2 separate regions of the Homo sapiens genome follow, and region 1 is linked to region 2. The links come from fine-mapping of genetic effects on gene expression. A gene starts in region 2. The other region holds a variant in brackets. All regions are shown on one strand. Distances are between the middles of the regions.

The links. PIP is the estimated chance that this variant, and not a neighbour inherited with it, causes the effect.
Region 1: its variant is fine-mapped to the expression of GALNT13 in aorta (GTEx, PIP above 0.99). The same link has a PIP of 0.9 or more in coronary artery and tibial artery.

What each region holds. Positions count from the first base shown.
Region 1 is chr2:154,356,722-154,369,449 of GRCh38, reverse strand. The region is part of intron 9 of GALNT13 (polypeptide N-acetylgalactosaminyltransferase 13); the gene reads right to left. Among named protein-coding and RNA genes, the nearest start is that of GALNT13-AS1, 94 kb to the left of the region's middle. The variant G/C (reference allele first, on the strand shown) is at 7,514.
Region 2 is chr2:153,866,490-153,879,217 of GRCh38, reverse strand. GALNT13 (polypeptide N-acetylgalactosaminyltransferase 13) reads right to left here and starts at 7,296. Exons shown (of 13, transcript NM_052917.4): 1 at 6,915-7,296.

The DNA of each region.
Region 1 (12,728 bases), 490 kb before region 2:
CTTTGATTTTCCTTTCCTGAGAGCTGACACTGAAGTATTATTTTGGTATTGTACATTCATTTCTTAATTTTCACAGAAATCAGGCACATATGTATTACGTCAGTCAAGAAAATTGAAGCTTCTATAAATGAATCTTACCCCAGGTTACATGTAAGTGAGCAGGACTTAGTCCAGTCTGTTTACAAAGTTTGTGCTCTTTCTATAGTGCCATGCTGCCTCTCCCAAAGTACCTTGGAAATACGAGATACTTAGTGTCATCTGAAACCAATTCTATCTCAGGCTTTTTAGGGCTCCCTAAATTTTTTATATGTCTCCCTAATATTACCATTATTTGAAACATTTTTTTTCCAGAATTGTACTTATTTATTCAAGACACGGAACCTACATCACAAGAAATCTGTCTTGACTAAATTAAGTATAATCCTGAAAACAACAACAACAACAACAACAACTCGGTGTCTTCTTAAAGCCTCCACTAGATACTTTACAATTCCGGAACACAATGGTACATTTACTGATGACTTGTGGTTTAAGGCCAGCAAAATCTGACCTTTGAAGGAAGTCAAGGAGAATGGTACCCCAGCAGGATCTTGTTACCCCTCAACATCTCTTACCAGTTACCAAAAAGTTATGAAGAATTCGGGAGGATGTCATACTAAGGTAATAATTACAATAGCCAACATTTACCGAGAGTTTCCTCTGTCCCAGGCCCTGTTCCTATAACTGTATGATGCAGATGTTAACTTCATTTTAGTAATAAGAAAACTTAGCCAGATAAATCAATTACCTGTGCACCATCCAATAACAAGTCAATGGCATAAACAGAATTAAGAGATGACAAACCTGACCCTGAGCTGTGGCTCCCCATCTCTGCATTAGGTCAACTTCACCCACCTCCCTGCCTGTGCACAGTTCCTCTGAAGTTAAAACCCTTTACATTTTACTCTACGAACAATGAAGGTAATATTACGGAGACATTTGACTAGATATTCTCCATTAAAAAAGGCCTTCATCCCACAGAAGTGGCAGCCATGGTTCTTTGGGAAAGACAGGCCTGCATCTGGTCAGTCACACCCCAGAGAGGGGTGTGACCTTAGTGTTGGCAGGGGTTTCTATGCTGTGGTCAGCTTTGTCTGAGCTATACTGGCCTTCACACTGACTAATCTCACATGAGAAGCTCATATCAGAATAAAAGAGAAATATATGTAGGTTTCTATGAAAAAGTAATTTCTGATAGCAAATCTGTGAAACTGCCTTTTTGTCATCAGAGCCAGAGAATTTTTTTTTTACATATTTTATCCAATTTATCCATTGAATTATCTTTTAATCAAAGTGAATTCACTGGAGCTATATATAGATGTTTATTCTAAAAATATACTCATATTTCAATGTCCGCTGTTGGCCCAAACCCAAACTTTTCTAGTTACATTAATCCACTGTTTTGGTTTTCAATCAAATACTACATATTTTTATTCAACTATAGTTCTGAAAATATTGTGAGAATCTCTATTATCATAAATCATACTTTATTCTTGAACTTTTTACTCACAGTATTCCCATTTCCCATGATAAATGTTTTCATCCTTAACTGCTTTTGTTCCATAAATTATTCTGCTTCAGAGAATTCTTTATCTATGCCTGTCATTTAAAAATATGTTTATAGATCATATCCACACTTCCTACTCTTTATCAATAGAGAAATTGGCAAGGTCATAAAAACATACTCTTTTTTTACATTATAAGAATAGCTTCTAGATCTTTTTATAGTCAGGCTCTGCCAAAAGATTTTATTCTTGTTTGCAATAGGAACCGTGAAAATGTGGAATTTTCTAAAATATCAGAATGAGAAGGCCAATTCTATTGTTATTTTATACTCTTGAAATGGTAAGTAGTGAAATGGTACATAATATTAAAAAAACAATGCTTCTTGGGCTTCAGAATGTAAACTGTGTTCTCTCACAATTTGCTGGAAATGCCAGCTAGGATTTTCAGGAATGTTTTATGACTTTCCAGGTAGGGACGTACATAACCTGCTCTATGTAACTAATGGCTAACAAAATCATGCTTTCTACTGCCTGGCCTACTTCTGGACCATTTGCTAATAACCTTTTCATTTTTAAATTTTTCTTTGTTTTCATTTCTAGAGAGGGGATTGACAAAGTTATCATCCATTTTTCCACATAGATAAGGGATCTTAACATCTTGAACTCCCTTGTTCCCTGATAGTTATTTTTAGAATGATCTTGCTTATGTTCGAATCACTTATGTTTCATCTCATTTATGGTTTACATCTCAGCTGTTTTATAACCAGAAACTCTCTACACTGTAAAAAGTGAATTCTATTTTTACTCTGTTATATAATTTCAATTTTTTTTTAAAAAAGGAGTTTATTTAACTAAAATAATGAACATAAAAAGTAGCAACAATGAAACCCATTCATTTCACAGTGTCCAACCTGGTCTAAGGGAGAGTATTCCATGGTATTTCTTCCTTTACATATCATTCATAATCCAGTCTAATCAGTCCCTATATGCTCACCTTAAATGTTTGACACAGTTTGTTGGAGTCCCTGTACCTTAAGTGACATTTGGAATTGACTTATTTGAGATCACCTGATTGAAACTTAGACTTGCTTTTTTGTGTAACTATACTTTCCGCCTTCCCTCTTCTCTGGTGATCACTTTCCACACAGTAATCATTGTTGGACTCCAACTCTGTTTCTGTCCATCATACAGAGGAATTCTTCCCACGGTGCGCAAATTCCCGCTTCCTTGACATATAACCTTAGTTCTCATCTGAGAATTCTCACCTGATTAACACTGCTCAGAAGTCGTGACATGTATAATACATGTTAAAAATTAATGCTCACTTGGAGCAGATTTGAATTTGCTTTAACAGTTTAACTCATTGTACTTGATATCTCAGTCTAAAAGATGTCAGTTGGTTTACTCAATCTTGTTACGAGGTTCTGGTTGTTTCCATCACACTCCTCTCTAGGTATGACTTATGTCTGAGGCTGTGCTACATATGCAAGGCATAGTGCTCATGATTAAATATGTTAATTACATATATAGCGAGTGACATATACATCCTTAAATTTGTAATATACATATATGCAATACACATGTACATTATATTTTCTAAACTATATATTTTAGACAAAGATAGAACTTTGAAAACTCTTTAAAAGACAGGAACCTTTTAAATGTAAATATCTGAATATCAGATTATGACTTTCTGCATCTGGGACATTTTTTAGGGGTAAGGAAGAAGAAAAGAGAATAACTGGCTGTGATATGACACTAAATCTTTCCTAATGGCTTTGGTATAAATCATTGTTAAATGATATATGTTCATACAATCAGGAAAAAAATTTAATGTATTATTAATTAAAATTACAGGAACACATCAACAGGCTTTAGTTCTCATCAATGATATTTAGTTCTTAAGTACTCTAGTGGAAAGGATGAAAATCTTTGATGATTGTCAATAGCATTGACTTCACACTAATGGCCAGAGGTCTAGGTCTCTTCACCAGGCTGATATTGGGTCAGGTTTCTGTGGAGGAAAATACTTATTACTCTTCACATTGAAGACATCATTCAGAAAATTTGGCTGCTAAGGGAGATTTCCTTTTACAGAGATAGTTCTTCTCATGCAGTAAGTAAGACTTGTTTAGTCAGTTAATCAATCTAATTATATTTACTGAGTATCTAACAGGAAAGAATGCAGACAATGGAATCCTAAGTCGATGACTTAAGCCACTTTCTCTGAATAAAGCTGGTGAAGAAACATTTCCTTACTTCAGTCAAGTCTCAATTCATCTATAGGATGATCTTGTCACAGAAGTCCACCTTACTTTATGAAATAGATATATTGTTTCCAAATTGAATCTTAATTTTATTGGGAATACTTACCCTTTAAAACAATTTTGGGATGAATCATAGTAATGCACAGATGAAATTGTGGAACTTTTTATAATAAAAACGGCAAGTTCTAGCATAAGGTCAAAGTTTTTCATTCTCTTTTTAAAATATTGGCAATTTATAAATAGAGCACAAATATATTTTTCCTTTTGTCTTTGAGGGTGGGTAGCTGTATTGCTCTGGTTTAAATTGAAGGGTATGCTTGGGAATTAGTTGTATGAAAATCATTTATATCCAACAATTGATTGTGACCTGCTTAGGAAAAAACGTATCTATTCTTAGAAACCCAGAGACTAAACTAGTAACACACTTGGTAAAGGTGTTCAGTGAATAGGATAAATGGATAAATAAAGCCTCTATGAAGTTAATGATTTTACTCATTTGAAAAGAAAAAAGAACAGAATGGGAAGATCACCCCAACTAGGTGGGATGCTAATTTTCATGTGAAAATTGAACGATGTTGAACTAGTTTGTCTAGTAGGTGCTAAACTGGCAGTTATATTTTTGCAAAAAGTACAAGAATGCAAATGTACATAAAAAGTGAAGGATAACTCTTTGGTGAAGTGGCTTACGCCTGTAATCCCAGCACTTTTGGAAGGCCGAGGCGGGCGAATCACTTGAGGTCAGGAGTTCAAGACCAGCTTAGCCAACATGGCAAAACCCCGTCTCTACTAAATATACAAAAATTAGCCAGGTATGGTGGCAGGAGCTTGTAATTCCAGCTACTTGGGAGGCTGAGGCAAGGGAATCGCTTGAACTCGGGAGGTGGAGTTGCGGTGAGCCAAGATCGCGCCATCGCATTCCAGCCCGGGAGAGAGAGTGAGACTCCGTCTCAAAACAAAACAAAACAAAACAAAACAAAACAAAACAAAACAAAACAACAAAAGTGAAGGATAACAATACTCAATAGTCATATAAGAAAACAGATTAAAAGTTTAATTCTAAAATACTGTGTTAGATAACCGCATTTTAAGAAAGGTCTGATTTCATTTTCACTGATATCCTTAGAAAGCAGCCTAAGGATATGAATTTGCTATACTTTCTAACTGCCCGTGATCACACTTTTCTCAGTCTTGATGGAATTTACTGGAGTCGAGATATTCTCCCTTGAACTTGTAAAGCCAGTCTTCCGTAATCATCAGATTTTGATGATTTCCTACAGGATAAGTGATATTACACAATGTGTTAATGCTTTATACAGTTAGGTTAAAAATATTCTTGCTAACAAAGAGGTTGCACTATTACACTCCCAAAAGTGAGATTAACTTAAAATTAAGTTTCTATTTTAACTCCATGAGATAAAATTAGAAATAACCTTTCTATAACTATAACAGTTGTAAATTATTTCCTTGTCTCAATACCATATAGCTTGCCTATAAATAGAAATTATGATTTCATTTAAATTCTGTAAGGATAATACAACAGTATCTTACCTCTGGTCAATATAGTATACTTCTCATTTTATTCCATTCAATATATATAACCTGTGTGATTTTTAGCTCATGCAATTTTTAATTCAAGGATGATGGATTTTTAATGTTCTTAACACAAAAAATAATTATTGAAAGATATATGTTGAAGACTTTCATTTTTTAGACCCCCTAGATAGTTTCATCTCAAGGCTATACAGGGATTGAGACGTCTATGCCTACCCACTAGGCAGTTCTCAAATATGATTCTTTTTGTAGATGGGATAAAGCACTTGGGTGATATTTTCAGATGAATATAGACATTGACTTTAAAACACAATTGCATAAACATGATGTGGAAGGCATAGGTCTGGGGAGTCAATTCAACACTTCTATTTAACTCCAGTCTTTATCTTTTATATTTATTCCAAAAGAGCTTCACATAAAAACTCCCTACAGAAAAAGAATTTGCCCACATTTACATTTCAGCATATAGACATAACCATTTCATTTCATCACACTGTTCTTTGCTTTTTTTCATATTTTAGAATGTGGTTTAATTTTCTTTCATCACCATAATGGGTCAGAGTGTGCAGAACAGTGATTGCAACAAAATTGCATTTTTAAGAAAAGGTCGTGCAATTAGCTGATGGATTGATGGAGATAACTATGACAGGCAGAATCCTCACTGGTCCACTGCAGAAATCCACAGAATAAATAATCAGAACATTTGAGCTTCCCCCCGCTCCACAAAAAAAAGTTAAAACAAATGCTATAGACATAATTCAGAATACTGTTCTGAAAAGACTGGAAGCAAGCCAAGGCTTGAGAATATCTAAGCCATACTGGGAAGGCAGAGAAGATGAAAGAGTAGTGATTCAAACTGGGGTGAGCTGGTTGGACAGGCGTACATCTGGCTTACCAAGCCTATTGGGTTTTTAAGCCAAGAAAGGTAATACAGTGCGAGAAAAAGTTAGCAAAACAAACAATGGATTCTGAAAATAACAAATCCCAGAGATCAGTAGAATCAGGTGAGAAAAAAACAAGTTTTGAATGTACTTAAGCTTAGAAAGTATTTCTGGGTTAAAGTAAATGAGAAAGCAAAACAGTGTACAATGCAACTTTAAAAGCTGTGTAAGGAATTTGGTAACTCAAAAATAAACTGACAATTTCATTTGTGATTTAAATCTGTTATAATGAAAACTCACGTGATTACTTTAATACTTTAAAGGGTTTGAAAGGTTGACCTACGCTAATTATTGAGCCATATAGTATCCTCACACTCATGAAAATGAATGTGGGGAGAAAATTTCTTCCTTAATGCAATAGCTATTTGGCCACTTGTAGGCAGTATTTTAGAGGTGATTCATGCATTGCTTAGTATAGCAGTTATGCAAAACTTAGTGCATAAAACAATGACCAGTTTTTTTAGCTCATAATTCTGTAAGTCAACAATTTGTCTGGGCTTAGCTGGGCTTTATTTTTTCTTCTTGTATATCAAGTTTTCTCTTGCATTTGGCAAGAGCTTTTGGGTTGGGTGGGGGTTGGCTAGTTTAAGATGACTTTGACTAGAAAGACTGGGATGAATGGGACCTCTCTACACATGGTCTCTCACCCACCAATAGTTTAAACTGGCTTGCTCATATGCTAAACATTCTCCGAGAGAAAAAGAGAAAGAGAGAGAGGAAAAGATGAAAGGAGAGGTGGGGGAGAGAGAGAGATGAAATATACAAATCTTTAGTCTGAGAATCAAAACCTACTCTATTTTATTCTATGTCATGTATGTCAGAAAAGCAAGTAATAAGACTAGTCCAGACTCAAGAAGCGAGAAACTAGATAGACTCACTTCTTGATGTGGGGTGGGGTGGGGGTGGGGGTAGAATTTGTGATCATTTTTTACACTCTGAAAATATGTGTTAGAATAGAAACTTCCAAGGACCATTCCAATTCTTAATGCCAATTCTTTTGTGAAAATAGGGTGCCACCAGTTCCTGTGGACACTCAGTTGTTTATCTTCATTGCCTTCTTTACTCTTTGTTCTTTACTCTTCTATGTCTGAAGTGATAGCTTAGTTAGAGCTGATTCCATGGGACTGGGCTCAGTAGTAGCAGGATCTTTTACCAAGAACTGTGGGCAAACTAAATCAAGTATGGCAGTCAAGGGCCAGTTATCTTGAGA[G/C]ATGAGTCATATTAGTTTTCCAAAATAAATAAGTCTTGGAAAGAGTGCCAGAAGCTAAACTAAGAAGTCTTAGGAAAGCCAAAACTAAAATTCAAGCATGAGAAATCACTGCCCAAGACTGAGGTGAATAATGTTTATTTAAAAAGCCTAATCATGCTTATTAGAATGACACAGGCCTAGTTTTTGACATTCAAAGGCCCAGAAATTAAGTGGATATGATTCTTTTACTAATCAGTATGGAATCGCACAATAGTAATAGGCAGCATCTGTTAAGTACTCACTATGTGACAGAAATGGGCTAAGCACTTTACACTAAATCTAAAGGCAATCCTATGAGATAGACACTATTTTTAGTTTTATATAAGAGGGATTTGAGGATTAGAGAATGCACTGTATTACAGCAAAATGATAAAGTTTACACAACTGGCAAGCAGGAGAGCTAGGATTTCAATCCAGGACAGTCTGATTCCAAATATTCAGCCTTGAATCACAAAGTCATAAGATCACTCCAAAAGGTTTTGGCTGAAAGAATTATAGACCGTCTAGTTACATTTTAGAAATGTTATAACTTAGCCAATGTTACATACTTAAACAGTATCAGAATTGGAGCTAGAGACTAATTTAGGTTACACATATACCAATCTTGAAGGAAGCGTTTATGCTATATATGCATATAAACCGTATATGGATACATCATACAAATTAATCTACAACATGCCCCTATGCTTTGTAATACCAGCAGTGTTGATCACATTCTGCTCAATAAAATCTTTATAAACATAACTTAAATATCAGACAAAAATAAGCTGTTCTTTTGGGTGTTTAATATGAAAAATATGTAGAGAAATTAGGCTATTTATGCAAGATCACTTTACTTTCTTCCCCACCACTCACTCCATGCTCCAATTGTTTTACATAACCCATCTTTCCAAATTGTGTTTTGTATTTTCATTTTTTGTTTTCAAATTTCCTAGGTTTTTAACCAACCCCATCTTCACTCCCCTTCCCCATGCTTCTAAAGTATGATTCATCTTTATAATCCCAAGTCAAATGCCTCAACCCTTTTTGGCTGGATTAATCTCATCCTTCCTTCTCTGAATTCTTGTATAGACTTAAATTGCCTGAGAGCTATCATGGTGCCACATCAAACTGAGTTCCTTGAAAGCAGGAGCTCTGCTTTCTATTTCTTTAAATTTCTAGTACACAGTATGTTACTTGGTACAACATACGTGCTCAATAAAGATATACTGAATAGTCACATTTATGACAATAGACTTATGAGACATCCATCCACACATAGGTACACGTTGCAAATTTGTATCACTCTAAAAACAGGCACAAGCCATCTGAGGAATAATTCCAGTAGCAAAACAAAAATATACTCTTATTTGGGAATGTTTTTCGCTTTTCTGCGAAAGCAGCACCCTATACTGGGATAAAACACAGTCTGTGGTACTTCCTTTGACACATTTCTCTCCCCCATAGTTTTTCCGAAACTCAAAGATCTATTTAAGAAGTTGGACAAAGAATGGCCTATTCCCTTAATATTTCAGGAACATGAATGGTTGGACTATTCTTTTTAAAGGAATGAACAAAGCCTGAATATACAGCCAGTGGACTATAAATGGATTATTGTTTTCTTTACATTGTAAGCAACAGCAGTAAACAAGGATATAAATGTTAATGATATTTCTTTAACAAAAGCTATCCATCAGCACTGCTGCACTGTGAGCAGTACAGTGATTAAACCACTGTAACATATGTATATGTGAATATTTACAAACAATCAAGGAAAAAAAGCAGTCAGTGTAATACTGTATAACTCGAAAGAACATGATTATTATTTTTTAAAAGAAAACAAGTTTATTGTCAAACATTTTTCCAGGACATTTGCTACAATGCCTTAACTACATTTTCTTAGACATAATATTGTCTTTGCTCATTAAATCATGTTGTTTTGGGAATGCTTATTTTTGAGATCAAAGGCTACATTTTCAGTAAGTCTACCTTAACAGATTGCCTTAGACAGCATTCTATTACATTAAGTTAAAGAAAATAGCCATTCTAACTTATAATTCATTTTACTGAGGAGCAGCAATCTAATTCACATTGATTTTGAGTAAACCTTTACATACCCATCTGCTCCATTTCAAGCTAGGCTTGTACAAATCAATGCATCTTCAGTATCAACATGCACTAATCAATGGGTAAGGAAAATCATTATTTACTGCTTGGTAATTGTGTTTACATTCAAATAAAATATAGTAACATGTACAAGGCCATTTTGGAGGAAGAACGAGTGGCCTATGGATCACAAGCAGATTGTCTTACATTGTATCAGATGATCTGAGAAATTTTACCAGGAAGGTAAGAGATGACCGTAAGTCTCACCTTTGCCTCGTTTTAGCTCTTAAGGTAGTTGTCCACATTTTCATGATCTTTCAATTCTAGGAAGCCTCCAGTAGGTGAATGGTAGTTCCAGGAACCATCGCTACAGGCAGCAATTCTCCCTACTGGATTATGATCAGCTCCAGAGCTGATCTGGTCTCTGCCCACCTGCTCACTCTTGGCTCTGAAACTTCACTTTAGATTTCTCTTGTCATTTGAACTTGGAGTATATATTTGGTTTCCTAGTGTTTGAATCTCAGTTTTCCCTAGTGGCTACCTGGGACTTGTCCCGCTGATGCTCTATTTTCAAGACTACCTTGAATAGGATACCCGGTCTAGTTTCAACCTCATTTAGACTCCAATCTCTGATGCCACTAGATTCCTGCTTTAACTCCACTGTGAAGGGCAGGGGAAGGAAAGTCAAAACACAGGAATACACATAGAAGTAAATGAAATACCTTGTAGTTCTGATTCACCAAACTTTATTAAGACAGCCCTGCAAACAGCAGGACAGATAAGACTAGGTTCCTGCCTCCCAGCATAACCGAACAGATGGGCTACGATGAAATTGCCCATCAAAATTTGTTTTGTCCTATTTTATTACAGTTATTCAGACAAGGAATGCAGATTGAAACAAGGAATGGCTGAAAACAGGTTCTGTTTTTAGTGAATTTCAGTGAGTGAACAGATTCACAGTACTATGAATGCAAGTCACACATTTCTTCCATTGTAGCTTCTCATAAAGAGCTAGAGACTGTACGTGGCAAGTATCTAAGTAGTTAAGTTAGCAGCGTAAACATTGGAATGATGCAAAGAAAATGTGCTCAAAGATCATGTGCATTTGTAAATCAAATTAGCAAATAAGGATATAATTTGAAAAACAGTAAGACTTATTGTTTGTAATCCTGAAAAGAAAAAAAATCAAAAAAGCAAATAAAACCCATGGATCCAAATATGATTTTCCTTTGTAGTATTGTATAAACCTCCCATTTTAGAAGTTATTATATTACATAGAAACTTCAAATTTAGTGATTTTGAGTCCAGATAGTGCTTTAATATATACGGAATTGTAAAATTTTATATGAAAGTGAATATATTCTATAAATGCATATAAAGTTGGTTTAGACTGATAAATGATTTCTGTTCGTTGATGTTTAGCCAGAGCATTTAGTATGAGTAACCAAATCTGAGTTCATTTAGTGAAGAGTGGAAAAAATAGGTTTCTACAAATATGAAAATTCACCTAAAATATATCACCTTATAAAAAATGACAACACTTTCTAAGATGTGTGTTGCTAAAAGATATTTAAGAGAAATGAAATATCAAAGATAACTGGATCACACTTCCATGGTAAGAGAACTTGCTGTTTGGAAAAGTGGCTTTGTTTCAATGTATATATGTGTAGCACATGTAATTTGTGTAAGAGCAAAGCAAATCAGATGAGAATTTCAAGAAGTTGAGTGTTCCATAAGCAACGTGTAAAAATATTCACATTCTATAGAAGTATTATAGTTTGGAAGGGCACATTCCACTCAAAGCTCAGATATACACAAATTGGGCTGAGATGAGTAAGTCAGAAACTCAGTATAGAAGATCAAAAAATATAATTTGCTAAGTTTAAATAAAGGAGAAATTTTAAAATGTGTAGTTTTATTTGATTTAGTCATTTAATTAGTAGGCTATTTTCTAAGTCCCATTTGAACATAATAGCTGCAAACCATCATTATCCTCCATGAAGCATACACTGAAAGACCGATGTTATCTACATCTGCCATCACTCCAGCTGAATGTCAAATGTGACTGATACTGGGATATAAATGAGTATCATGACTATCCCAGTGAATGACCAGTCATCCCTTGACCCATATCCTTCAGTAATGAAGCTTTGTTTCAGGTGACAACATGGAGGATCAGAATATTTGATAAGCTTGCCTAATGTCATAGGAAAGATACAAGTCAGGTATTTTCGCCGTTGTCATCCACTATGCACAATGGCTCATGATTACTACCTGCTAGTGACTAAACTCAGCTAGCTAAATAATTTGCATGCCTTTTTACACGCCTTAAATGTCAGCAGCACCCCACTTCTTACACTGTGCATGTAGTTGAATGAGAAAGTGGGAATAGAACTGGGACACCAGGACAAACATCTAACTCTAATAAAGAGAAGACAACTCACATGAAATATGAAAATTAAAGGTTAATACTCACCAGTAATACAAAATATTTTAATTACAAAATATAGCAGTAATGCAGCTTAGAATACATATTGCCCCAAATAAGTCATCCAAGAGTGCTACAAAGAATTTTTGACTCTCCTAGAAAGTTAAGAGCTAAAAGAGATCTTAGAGATTATTTTAATGATTCTATGTCTTTAATGTGTAGATGCAGCAACTGGTTTGACCTTGGAAATGTACGTCCCCAAAACTATATTGCAAGCAGGAGGTACAAAAGCAATTAGAAGATAGATCTTCTAGTTCATGTAATACCAAATATAATGTTCTTTTTTATACACTAAGTTCCCACAGTTTTATTTCATTTCAATCAATCTTCAGGTTAATAAAAACAGGTATTATCAAATATCTATATTTATATAGATCATATAAGACAACCAAAAGCTTTTCCTAAACAGATACCTATGGTATCTAGTCTAGTGGAAGACATAATAACTATAGGTAGTACATGGTTATCAATTTATGTGCTAACAGCAAAGTATTTATTTAATGTACATTTGAAAAATATGCATCAACATATAGTTTTATAGTTTAAGGCTCAGTTAGAAGTATAAGAAGATTGAAAATCAATTTAAAGAAACAAATAAATATG
Region 2 (12,728 bases):
TGAAGGTCTTTATGATTAAATGAATCAATATCTGCAAAGCACTTAGAACAACTCTGGGGCATAGTAATTGCTGTGTTTTGTTAAATAAATCTGTTAAGTGATATACTACAAGCAGATTAGTTGCTTGAAATGTCACTGCACCTCAGAATCACATAGGAAAATGTGCATAAAGGTAGATTCTGTGGATCCATCCCAGTTAAATGAGACTCTGTATCAGTGGGACCTGAACACCTGTAACTACAATGAATAAATAAACTCAAGGTAATTTGGATTTACAACCTGCTTTGGTAGAAATGAAACTAATGTCTTAGGTCAATTTAGCCACATTTCACACACTCCACCAGTATTCTTTTCCTCTTTGATGGCCCAAATAGACACTATCTAAAGCAACCTGGGATGTAAAACCAACCACCAGTTTTACAAGAGCACTAACCAAACCTGCTTCACTTTCGCCAAGGCAAAGAAGTAAAAATGGAGCAAACTGACCCGTACAAGTTGGGATGTGTTTTTTGGAGGGAAGATGGAGAAATTAGTTCTGACAAGCTCTTTTTGTCATTGCCCAATATTCATTTCCAATCCCAGGACACAGAGTGGCACCATCTTAGTGTCAGTAAATGGCAGTTAACTACCAAGAAGGAACAAGTCATCCCTAATCTTCCAATCATTTCAACAAACATTAACACAGTAAACTAAGGCTAAAGCAAGTGCTAGCATCTTTCCTAGGTCCAAATTTTATTTGAAACTAGGAAGAGAATGGAATAAGCTATAAGCATTATGTCATCAAGTCATGAATATGATGACCATGCCGGCCAGAGCTGTGTGGGTGCATAGAGTAGGCAGCATATCACAGTGGTTCAGAGTAAGATGGGCATCCAAGCACAATCTACGGGAAATTTTTTGTGATGAAATTTTCATCAGTCTTGGGTGAAATTAGGAAAATGAGTACAATGTGGAAAAATGTACAGGGAGCTTAATTTATTCTCTTTAAATAACTATTATTTATTTTGAGATTCAGTTCTTCCATGTTATTTGGTGTTAAAATATCCACTTTTATAAAATTGAGATGATAGAAGTAGACTTTTTCAATCATTCTTACTATACAAAAGAAAATAATCACATAAAGTTTACCACTTGATTTTTTTAAATTATCAGTCAGTGAAAATGTCAGACTGAGAACTATTAGATTATTGGCTTCAAGGCAGAATAAACTGGTGTCATCCTTGATGCTCACACATATTAGCTGTGTGATTCTGAGGTGATGCCTCATTTATACAATGGCAACAGTAACATACTATTACTCATATTGTTGTTATAAAGATAAAACATGTTAAGACCTGCCAGATGTTTACTTACCACAGTACAAATACAAAGTAAACAACCAACGAATTTTAGCCACTTTATCAATTTATAACCCAATACACCATCTTACCTTCTTCATAAATAAGCTGGAATGGATACACCTTTACATATATTTTATTCCATTTTTCTTTCTTTAAACTAATGGTTGTATTTCATTGGGGTTTTGATAGTCATATAAATCTCACCTTCTCTATCTGAAACTAATTATATAATAATAATCTCAAGAGGAAATTAAGTCAGTTATTATGCTTCTAAGCTACATAATCCTCCTCATATGTCAAAATCCACTTTATTAACAAAAAAGAGGTGCTTTGCTTGTAATATCAAGGCAATTAATATAAGACAAGAGACTAAGTTGACATTTACTACTATCTTCAAGATGTTATTTGGATGATTTTTGATTGTGCTATGCTTTTAAATTCTTCTTTCTGTTTACAGTGGCTACTCACCACATGCATTACGTTCACCAATGTGTCAACAAGCAGATTAATCACACTCTTCCTAAAATGTTGTATAAGAGCTTAAATAAGATTTAAGTGACAATTCAATGTAGTGGAATATATGAAACAGAGTCCCAATTAATTCCTCTTCATGTTAAAACCTTAACATGATATATCTTGCACAGCCCCCATCTATCTTAACAATGAGCATATCTTTAAAAAATATGAAAGAAATCTAAGTATTTATTATGGACATTGTATTTAATTTTCTCACATAGTCTACAAGATGATAACAAATATGTTCATATCTATGGTAATAATAGTCATTCTTCTCCCTACATCCCTCTCAAACTATCTTGAGAGGATTAACCATTAACCTGGAACAATTTTTAATAACTGATATTTTGAATTGTGTTTGAGTTCATTTCTGAAGGGTAGGTAATTATGGTAGTGTACACATTAAGAGAGAGCCTGACAGTTCATGAGGACTCTAATTACGTGGACATTGAATGAAGTTGAGCCCTTAAAGGAAAAGCATGTCTCCCAACTTTAACTTAACAATTTAAATTTTAGATCCCATCAATCTCTGCAGTGATAACTTTTAAAAATTAAGAATTTCATTTAAATGTATAAGTCTAAAGACATACTAAAAACAGCTTGAAAAACTCATAGCTATAAATGAATTTAAGGACATGAGAGCACACAGTAATCAGAATCACACAGATGTCTTTAGCCACCTGTAATCATTTCTTGGTAATCAAGCTAACACCAATTAAATGTATTATAATAGATACACTACACTGAAAACACAGACACAGGTCTAAATATGAAATCAAGAAGAAACAAATATCAAGTGATTAAAGTCTGTTTGGTTTACACTGCTCCTCCCAAAAACTAGATATAATTGTTTATAATGCCCCAAACGGATGACTATTACTGAATTAAATGTATTCATTTTCATAAATTTCCTTGAAAAGCTAAATTTCACAATGAAAAACCAGACTTTTCAAACACAGGTATGCATATATTTGAATGGCAGAAGTCCTTCAACAATGTGCCTTGATAGAAATTGTAAACAGAAGTCTAATCTGATAAAATAATAAATGGTTTATCAAAGCAGACAGTGCCAGATCTTTAAATGTGATTTACGTTTTCAAACATATGCTTAGCCACTGTGTGTGTATGTGTGTGTGTGTGTGTGTGTGTGTGTGTGTGTAGTGTGGGGGGGTTGCTGTTAGAAATGTCATTAAATAGGTTGTCAGAATAAATATGAGTATATATATGTAGGACTTGATTTGATGTTTCACATGTGTTTATTTTGATGACAAGAGCAGAGGGAAGGATTTAGAACCAAAGCCCAGTTTAAATCCTTTGATAATTAGGCATATGGTCATTCAGACTTCAAAGCAGTGATCCTGTTAGATCCCATTAGATTTAAGATGTCTACATGTTCCTTCTGACAGGGACACAAATACAAGAAGGTGATGTACTAAGAGTCGCTGTCAAGAATGTGTTGTTTGTTGCAAGAGGTTTCTCTTTAAAATATCATGTCTAATAAGGCAAATTAGTTAAAGGTCATAACTATATGAAGTGTCCATTTTTAAAAGGACAATGAACACCTAACAGAGATATGTAGCATTATAATTTATTTTAGACAGTAAGGCTTAATTCTATTCCTACTTTATTCTCAAGCATTTTCTCGACTGTTATTATTCAGAAACACCAGGATTCTCTTCATCTGCCCATTCATAAAGAATAAAAATACCCATTTGTTACTGTTACTTCTTATCTCACCCCTTTCCTAAAATCCCGAAGTCTTTATAAGCTGTACAAGCTCTATTACATGAAAATGCTCCTGTTACAACTACTATTTCTAGAAATCAACTTGGCATGATAACAACATAGTTCACTCTGACATAACTGTTTAAACTGAAATGACTGCCCAGTAAGTTAAAAAGTTAGATGCATAAGTTAAACCTGTAAAACAAATAGAAGGTCTCTCAAACAATATCAGATTTTCCACCTTCATTATGTCTTTGCTATTTTTAAATATAAAAATTGGGTACAGTATCAAGTGATTTATAAATAATATTTTTAAAGAAAAATTGCTTTGAACATGCTCCTGCACCATACTCATGATAAATTAGCAACTATTTTAAGAGGTGACTAGCATATCATCAAGAAAGTAGTATTGCTGCCCATGGATTTCTATTATTACTTTGAATTAGGAGGCATTATGTTTCCAGGTACTTTAGGAAATTCTCACATTCATGCAGTATCGCACATCTCATATATATATATATATATGAAGCAGTAGGGGAATCCATAAATTATTTAGGGTAAGTGATCCAGCTTACAGATCAATATATAGCCCCCAAGTATTTTAAGCTGATATATCTGTTCTTTATATTAAAAGAGAGAACTTTTCACTTGTTAGAAACCACATGAAAGTATTCACCCAAAAATGATGCCATGTCCCAACTTACTTTCAGGTAAGGAGATTGAGAGATGCCACATTTCAGGGCCCCTCTAAACTCATTTCTTCAATTCTGCAATGACTGTGTTAAAGAACACCAGCCAAGTTGTAGACTTGCAAAAAGGGGCAAATTCAAGCAATAACATGAACTACAAAGAAGCAGAAGACCCCTGTTTCAATATCCCTTCTACTAGTTCTCAATTACCATTCATAAAAAATCTAAATGAAACCTCCCAAAAAAGGAGCGGGGAGGTGGAATTTAGCTGCAGGCTCCTTAGCATACCTGGTAACTTGGAAGCCTATGATCCGCTGCATGCTAATCAATCAACCAACAAGTTTTATTAAGCACTTACTAGTTTCCCCACACTGTCCTAGGGACTACATATCTGAGACAGCCTCCATTCTCACATTCCCACTCAGGACTTTCCGAACTGGAATTAATCTATACCAGCAGTACCCTATAATTCCTTTAGAAAAGCTTTCTATTCTTCCTCTCCAAAGCGGATCCGAGACACAGTGCCCCTACTTAAGCAAGTACCTTAAGCCCTGGAATGGGATAAGCATCACAGAAATGGTGAAATAAAAGCATTTATTTAAACAAGCAGAAGCAGCCAGGAAAATTCTCCATGGAATTGAAGGTGGATAGGGGCTAAAGGAGAGATGTGAAATCCTGGTTTATGGCAAACAGTGCAGAGAAATGCATCTTTTTAATGTTCAAAGTCTGCCTTAGGCTACGCAAATTCTCCAGACCTATCCAATTCCCAAATCAAACGAACAGGGTTTCAATATGAAGGTTCTTATTCTGCAGGAGACGTGGGGAAAGAAAAAAAAAAAAAAAACAGAGATTGCGGGAGGGGGGTGCGGGGGGAAAGAAAGATTAGTAATGTAATGCAAAAGTCATTCTTTGAGGAAAAGGAAAGGATGCGTGTAATACAAGGAGAATTATCCCGGAAGGTGAGAGGTCCAAAAGTAAATAACCAATAGGTTGACCTTACTTTTCAATATTCTCGAACCAGCAGGTTTCTTTAACACTAGAGGGCATGAACGCAAACGAGACAGAGAGAGAGAGACAGGGAGACAGCGAGAGAGAGAGACACAGAAAAAGAGAGAGAGAGAAAGAGAGAGAGACGGACTGAGACTCTGAGGAAAGGCAGCTTTCACATAAAGCTGAAAATATTCAAGGATACCAGAAATTTCAAGGGGGCTTTGGCAGCCAAGTGCCTTTAGCCTTGCGAATAAAACCTCTATGTTGTTATGTTGTTTCAGGGAAGGCTGACCACGATCTCTCCAAGGAAACCGCTTTCCTAAGCAATGAATGCATGGTAGTTTAAGGCAGGCATACCTCAGTCCCCAAAGCTCCTCTCCTCTGCTAGCAACACCTTTGCCTGAAGAAAGCTCCCACCCTTTCGAGGTTAGTTTCCCTGAACCCCAAAGCATCTATGTTTGCCTGCTCACTGTCCGTTCTTCTGCAGCTGGCTATAAAGGTTGGGGAGGCAGACTCTCCTCCTGGAAATTCAACTAACCATAGTCAAAGAATCGGGTATGCGGGAGGGGCTTGCGCAGCTTTCGCTGTCCAGAGTAGCAGCCTCAGTGCGCTCAGGTTCGCAGCAGCGCAGCGCCCTCGGACCCGGCAAGGGGAGCCTGCTGCGGTGCCCTCCACTCTAACCCCTTGCGCCCCTCCTTCAGGTCCACGACAGCCTGGACAAGGGCAGGCTGTCTCCTCCGCGTCCCCACTGACCCCGCAGGAAAATCTCTGCACCTGGAGATACCCATTAGATGCGCCAGGGCTTGCTCCCCTAACCAAGGCGCTTCGGGATCGCGGGGCTGGTGTTCGGGAAGACGGGGCAGAGAGATGACAGAGGGAGACAGAGATAAGCTGCGAGAAGCAGACACAGAAAGAGAACAAATGTTGCAAAACGGAGAGACAAAAGGAAAGACAGATTAACAGGGACACAGATATCCCAAGAAAGAAAGAGGGAAACAGAATAAGAGAAAAAAACAGATACATGGCCGGAGAGTGTGGACTGAGGGGACCAAGGCTCAGAAAGAGAAACAGAGGCAGAGACACACACGGCGAGAATGAGAGGCAAGAGGACTCTGAAAAAGCGAGGCAAAGGGGGCACTATACGAAGGCAACCGTCGAGGAAGACACCCAAGACCCAGGGAGCGCCTGGTGTCGGGTCGAGTAGAAACGCCCGCAACGCAGCCGGGGCTGCCTGCAGCTGGTGCGAGAAAGTTGTCTGGGCTTGGAGGCCGAGCCACCCCCGCGGAGGAACGTCACCAGAACGCAGAGGGGGCCAGAGCCGCTCCCCCCCCCCCCCCCGCCACCAACAACTCACCGGGGTAGCCAGAAAAGCAGAGCAGAAGGTGGGCGGCGGCAGAAAGTTCCGCGCCACGCGGTCCTCCCGCAACACCTGCAGCCCCGCAAGCGAGCGCACTCGGAGCTCCCGGGAGGCCGCGTCGCCAGGTCCGCCCGCGCCCCTGCCTTTGCCCTGGGACCGGCCCGGGGCGCTCGGCTCCGCGCCCCGGCACTCGCCGCGGGACTTTGCGGCACCTAGCCCCGGCACTCTGGCAGCCCAGAGGGAGCTCGTCCCAGACAATCAAGAGGAAAAGAGGGGAAGCGAGAAAGAGACGGAGACCTGCTATCCTGGCCAACGATCCCGCGAAGAGGGAACGGCGGTCCACACACGGGATTCAGCCTCAGATCAAGCCCAGCAGGCGCCGGCCGGCCGCGCCGAGTGCGGGGCTCGCCGAGTCCGCGCTCACCTGGAACCCGCGCCGGCCCGCGAGCGCCGCGCGCAGCCCCGGCTCCCGCCCGCGCCTCTCTCTTCACACTTGCCCGCGAGCAGAGGGAGCCGGCTCCAGCCTCGGCCAGCCCCAGAGAGGGGCCTTCATAGCGCAGCGGCGGGCTGAAGGGCTCCTCGAGCGCGGCCAGAGCGGACGCTGAGGCCGAGGAGGCGCCCAGAGCGAGCGAGGGCTGCTAGCACGTTGTCACCTCAGCAGAGCCGCCGCCGCCTGGTCACTTCTCCCCGGCCCCCGCCCCCCTCCCACCCCAGCCCGCCGCCTCCCGGTCCCTCCTCCTCGCGTGGTCCCTCCTCCTCTCGTAGCCCCAGCCTGGAGGCCTCTCACTGGGCTAGTATCATTTACGTAACCAGCACCCCCAGCCCTCCTCCCTCCCTGCTCCCGCTCCTCCCCGGGCTGGGGCGGTGCGCACCGAGCGCGCTCCAGCTGCTTCTGGAGCTGGCGCTTCTGCGATGTGCGCAAGTCCCGCGATACTTGGCAGGCACGGCCCCCAAGAGCAACCCTGGGGTCAGCTCCTCTCGCCGGAGGGCGCCTCGCGACCCCTGGCCGCTTTGGGGCCCCACAACGCCAAAGCCGGCCTGCGTGCACCGCGTTCGCCCAATGCACCAGGGAGCCTCTTAGAGGGGAGCTGGAGGATCAGAGACTGCCCTCGGGGAAAGCGCCGGCAACCCCACCCTTGCCGTCGGCTCTCCAGCCGAGAGATGCTGCGGGGTACTTGACGCTTCGGCGCCCTCCGCAGAAAGGACGGAGGTTGGCCTCTTGTTGGTTACAGTATCTACACCCTGGCAGGATCCTAGTGTTCTGGTTGGCGGTGACTACTGCCACCGAACGCACTGTAAGAGTACTGGAAACACAGAGCGCTTCCTTGTGGCTCTCAAATTTTTATGAAGAGGTAAAGAAAAAAGTGGGGCTTTGAATTCCTTTCTCAGGCAAGTAGGTATGATATTAAACACACACCCACTCCGAAGTACCTGGACGTATGAATGTCTCAGTTAATGTGTTGTACCAATACCCCCATGGTACTGAGTTTAAATACATGTAAAGATTTTAGAACAGTGCCTGGCACAAGGCAGAAACCTAAGACGCAGACATTATTAGCGTCTCAAAGACTTGGGACCTGTCCCCCACTGCCATGGGAGAGGAACTTTTCTAGGAAATTGGGATTGCCGAGTTCAAGTGCCTGCTTGGCAATTTATTCACTGTGGCTCTTGGCTAGTTTTGGCCCTTCGGGTGTCAGTTGTCTTGTTTGTAATAAGGGCTGACAGGGGTCCTTGCTTCTCACAGTGTCACTTCACACATCTTATAGGATGTTTTTGGCAGAATTGGGGGAGGATATAACGACTACATAAAAATATTAAACAGCCACGTTTGACAAACATATGATACTATTAATCATAATCTAGTATGTCAATGCCATTCTTGATTATACTCATGAAAGGCAATTTCCAGAGATATTATCTTTATATCTTTTCGTGAGTCAAGTATCATTTAAATTTCTATGTTAATAACTGTATTAATGTCTCCTCCTACATTGTCCATCCTGCCCTACCGTCAATTATGGAGCATTTACCAGAGATGCTTCTGTGCATGTGTGAGTACACAGGGTCCCACTCATAACACTCTGGAATGTCTCTCTACTGCTCTCTCTAGTGAATTCCAGTCCTAACATCAGGTCACTCACCTCTACATGGCATACTGAGAAAAACTGTGGACCAGGTAAAAGATTGGGGTTCTGATGCTGATACAGCTACTTACTAGTCCTATGTTTTTCAAAGACAAATAAGCCCCCATTCTTACATGTTTCATCTCTTAAAAAAAGGCGCAATTCCATTTTGCAGTCTTTGTGATAATATTTAACTTAGGCAGAATCATAAACTTGGTAAAATTTATTTGGGTAATTGGATATTTACGTAGTCCCAAAGTATCACCCTAGAAAGTATTGGCTTTTGGTGCATAACACACCATTCCAAAACTTATTAGCCCCAACCAATAAACATCTGTAATTTCTCAAAGCTCTGTGGGTTGTCAGGTTGGTTTCTGCCCTGGCTAGCTCAGTTTGGTTTAGAGATCTAGGATGGCTTCACTCACTTGTCTGGTGTGGCATACTTATTAGTCTTGAGGGTGTGGGACTCAGCTGCAATGTTTTGTCTTTTGTTTAATCTAGCCCATCATCCTTCAATAGGCTAGCAGTAGTCGTAGTTGCAGGGCTCCAAAAAGCAACAAGGGAGTGCAAGCTCCAATGTGAAGTACTCTGAGATTCTGTGGACGTACATTTGCTGGTGTCTCATTAGCCATGGAAGTTACATGGCCCAAACATAGATAATATAGTCCATGTCTTGATGGGAGAAACTATAATGCCATATTTCAAGGAGAATGCATACACAAAAATAACTTGAGGCTGTTTTTATAATATACTATAGATCCTTAATTACAAACGAATAATAAATTACATGTAGTGGATAAATCTGGTAAACATCACCTTAACCAACTGACCAAGGTTAAAGTCACCAATAATGGGACCAAGTGATATCATGAGCCTCATGATATGATGCACTGAGAAGTACATAACATTATTGATTTAGGATTCCAGATTAAAAAATGCATAATTGAATGCAATCACGAGAAAGCAAAGAAAGCCTTAAATTAAGGAAAATTCTACACAATATCTTGCCTATACTTTTCAAAAATGTCACTGTGATGAAAGTCAAAGAAAAGCTGAGGAAATATTCCAGACTAATGGAGATTTAAAAACCATGACTACTAAATGCAATGTGTAATCCAGAATTGGAGAGCAAACTGGGAATAATATCTATTAATATAAAGAGCATTACTGAGACAATCTAATTCAAAATATTAATAAAAACTATAATATCTAAACTGTATGACTTTTATTTATAATCAAATTAGTTTTATATCAATATTAAGTGTCCTAATTTAATTGTATTGTGATCATATATAAGAAAGCCCTGGATCTTTAAAAAATATAATAAAATATTTTGCAGTAAAAAGAACATAGAGGTTGTAAGGTCCAGAAATACCTATAGAGAGAATGATGATGCAAATGTGGCAACCTTTTATAACACCATTGGTAAATTTTGGTGAGGGGTATGTGTTAATTCTTTGTAGTAATTTTGCAATATTTCTTGAAGTTTAAATACTTTTTTAAAAATCAGGTAGTTATCATTATTTACCTCATAAGAATAATAACCACAATAATTTATCTGAATGAGTGTTGAAAGTTATTAAAAAGTCATATTTTTTCAAACAGAAAGTTTGGCATTTATCTTTAATCAAAGTGGAGCTATTGCAAGTATTTGCTTAGATAAATGGTAAGACCAATACTGTACAATTCTTGGCTATAAGGCCAATACAAGGGCTACCAGGCCAAGAATGTCTATTGGCCAATATAAGGCCAAATGTATAGGGCCTTAGCTACAGAGTATACAAAAGACAGGGATATGAGTTTAGCAGCTACAATTGTCCATTATGTGATTAACCAAGGCGCTCATTCTAAAGGGAAATAAAGGGTGAGATAGTTATGTCTTGCTGAAATTAAATTACCAGGTTTTGGCAAATTATTAGGAATGATGGATAAAGGAAAATGTATTATATAACTTTAAGAGATTAAGATTGGATGAGTAGGATGATGGAGATGCCATTATTAAGGGACACTGAAAGCAATAACTTTATTTTCTAAAATGAAATCTAATAATATTTTCTTCTAATTATAACATTTAAGTGGCTTCTCATTGATTTTAAGAAATTGTCTAAAATCTCTAACATGCCCTATAAGAACCTTTATACTCTGGGGCTCTGCTTACCTCCTTTGTACTTACAATGAGCTAAGCACTGCAATAGGTTTTGAAGACAAAGAGGAAAGTAAAGACAGCCTGCACAAAACTTAGGGTTCAGTCATACATCCCATGAATATACATTGAGCACTTACAGAATGACAGTTATTTACTAGGAACTGGGAATACAGCAGTGAGCTAAGGCTAATGCTCACTGCTATATTCCCAGTGCCTACCAGTGAGAAGAAGAAAATGCCTAGCACTGTCTAGCAGTGAGAAAAAAGATATAGATCCTGCCTTCATGAATACTACATTTTGCTGAGGTATGTCCTAACCCAAAGGTCTGCAACCCCCGAACCACAGACCTATGGCAGTCCATGGCCTGTTAGGAACTGGGCCACACAGAAGGATATGAGGGATGGGTGAGCCAGTGAAGCTTCATCTGTATTTATAGCCACTCCTCATTGCTCACATTACTGCCTGAGCTCCACCTCCTGTAAGATCAGCAGCAGCATTAGATTCTCTTAGGAGTGTGAACCCTATTGTGAACTGCACATGTGAGGGAACTAGGTTGTGCTCCTTATGAGAATCTAATGCCTGATGATCTGTCACTATCTCCCATCACCCCCAGATGGGACCATCTAGTTGCAGGAATACAAGCCGAGGGCTCCCACTGATTCTACATTATGGTGAGTTAGATAATTATTTCATAATATATTTCAATGTAATAATAATAGAAATAAAGTACACAATAAACGTCATGTGCTTAAATCATCCTGAAACCATCCCCTCTCCCAGTCTGTGGAAAAATTGTCTTCCACAAAACTGGTCCCTGGGGCCAAAAATGTTGGGGAGGGCTATCCTAACCAAATAAATAAGTAGGTGTGTATTTACGTCAGGTGATAATAAATTCTAGAAGAAAATTGAAATAGGCTAAGAGTTGAGCTTTTCAACTCATGCACCACAAATAGTTTATAGATATGCCATAACATATCGATCACTACACCCATCAGAAGTAGCCAAGTAGTGTAGCCTCAAGTTGCTAGGGCCCGTAATTAGATAGCCTGGATCATAAGAAACTTGATAAGAGCTTCTTGGAGAATGGCCTGCATGTGCAGTTCAAAGTATAGCCCATTGTGGGTGGGAAAGCAAGGAGGTTGGGCAGAAACTGCTAGTGGGAATAGCTCCAGCTAATAACACAAAGATTTAGCAACATAAAGATTAAGTAATTCTATTTCATATATAGTTGATTTGTTATTTTAGTGGTAACCATGTCAGCTGCAGATTGACTGTTCTTATAATGCACGGGCATTCTTCATATTCAAGCTTTATCATTATGTTGAATAGATTTGATAAAATCCATGGATAGCCACAAAAAAATTTGAATCAATTAATGAAAGAAAAGTAGAGATGATATATTTTAAATAAGATTTTAACTGATGTAAATATTTGGTCATAGAAGCAAATGTTTACAATCTTTCTCACCTATACTTGTGCAGACAAATTTTCTCATCATTTATGATGATAAACCTATTACACAATCATTTAAAATGTCACAATCAGTAAATAATATAGCTACTTCAAGCATAAAATCTTTTGTTAAAATGTTGACTTTATGAAAGCAATATCTCATTAAAAGTTTTAAAGTTTTATTTGTTTTATTTGGAAGTCTTATGATTCAATATATCTTATTATTATAGGTTTTGTAACAATAATTTCATGACATGAAGAAAGTATAATTAGTTTTAAACTAAGCTTTATACTAATACACTCAAATTTGCTCTAGTTTATCTTATTATCCATAAAGCCTTATATCATCTGTCATTTGCACCAAACACAGTGGCAAATTTACATTTTTCC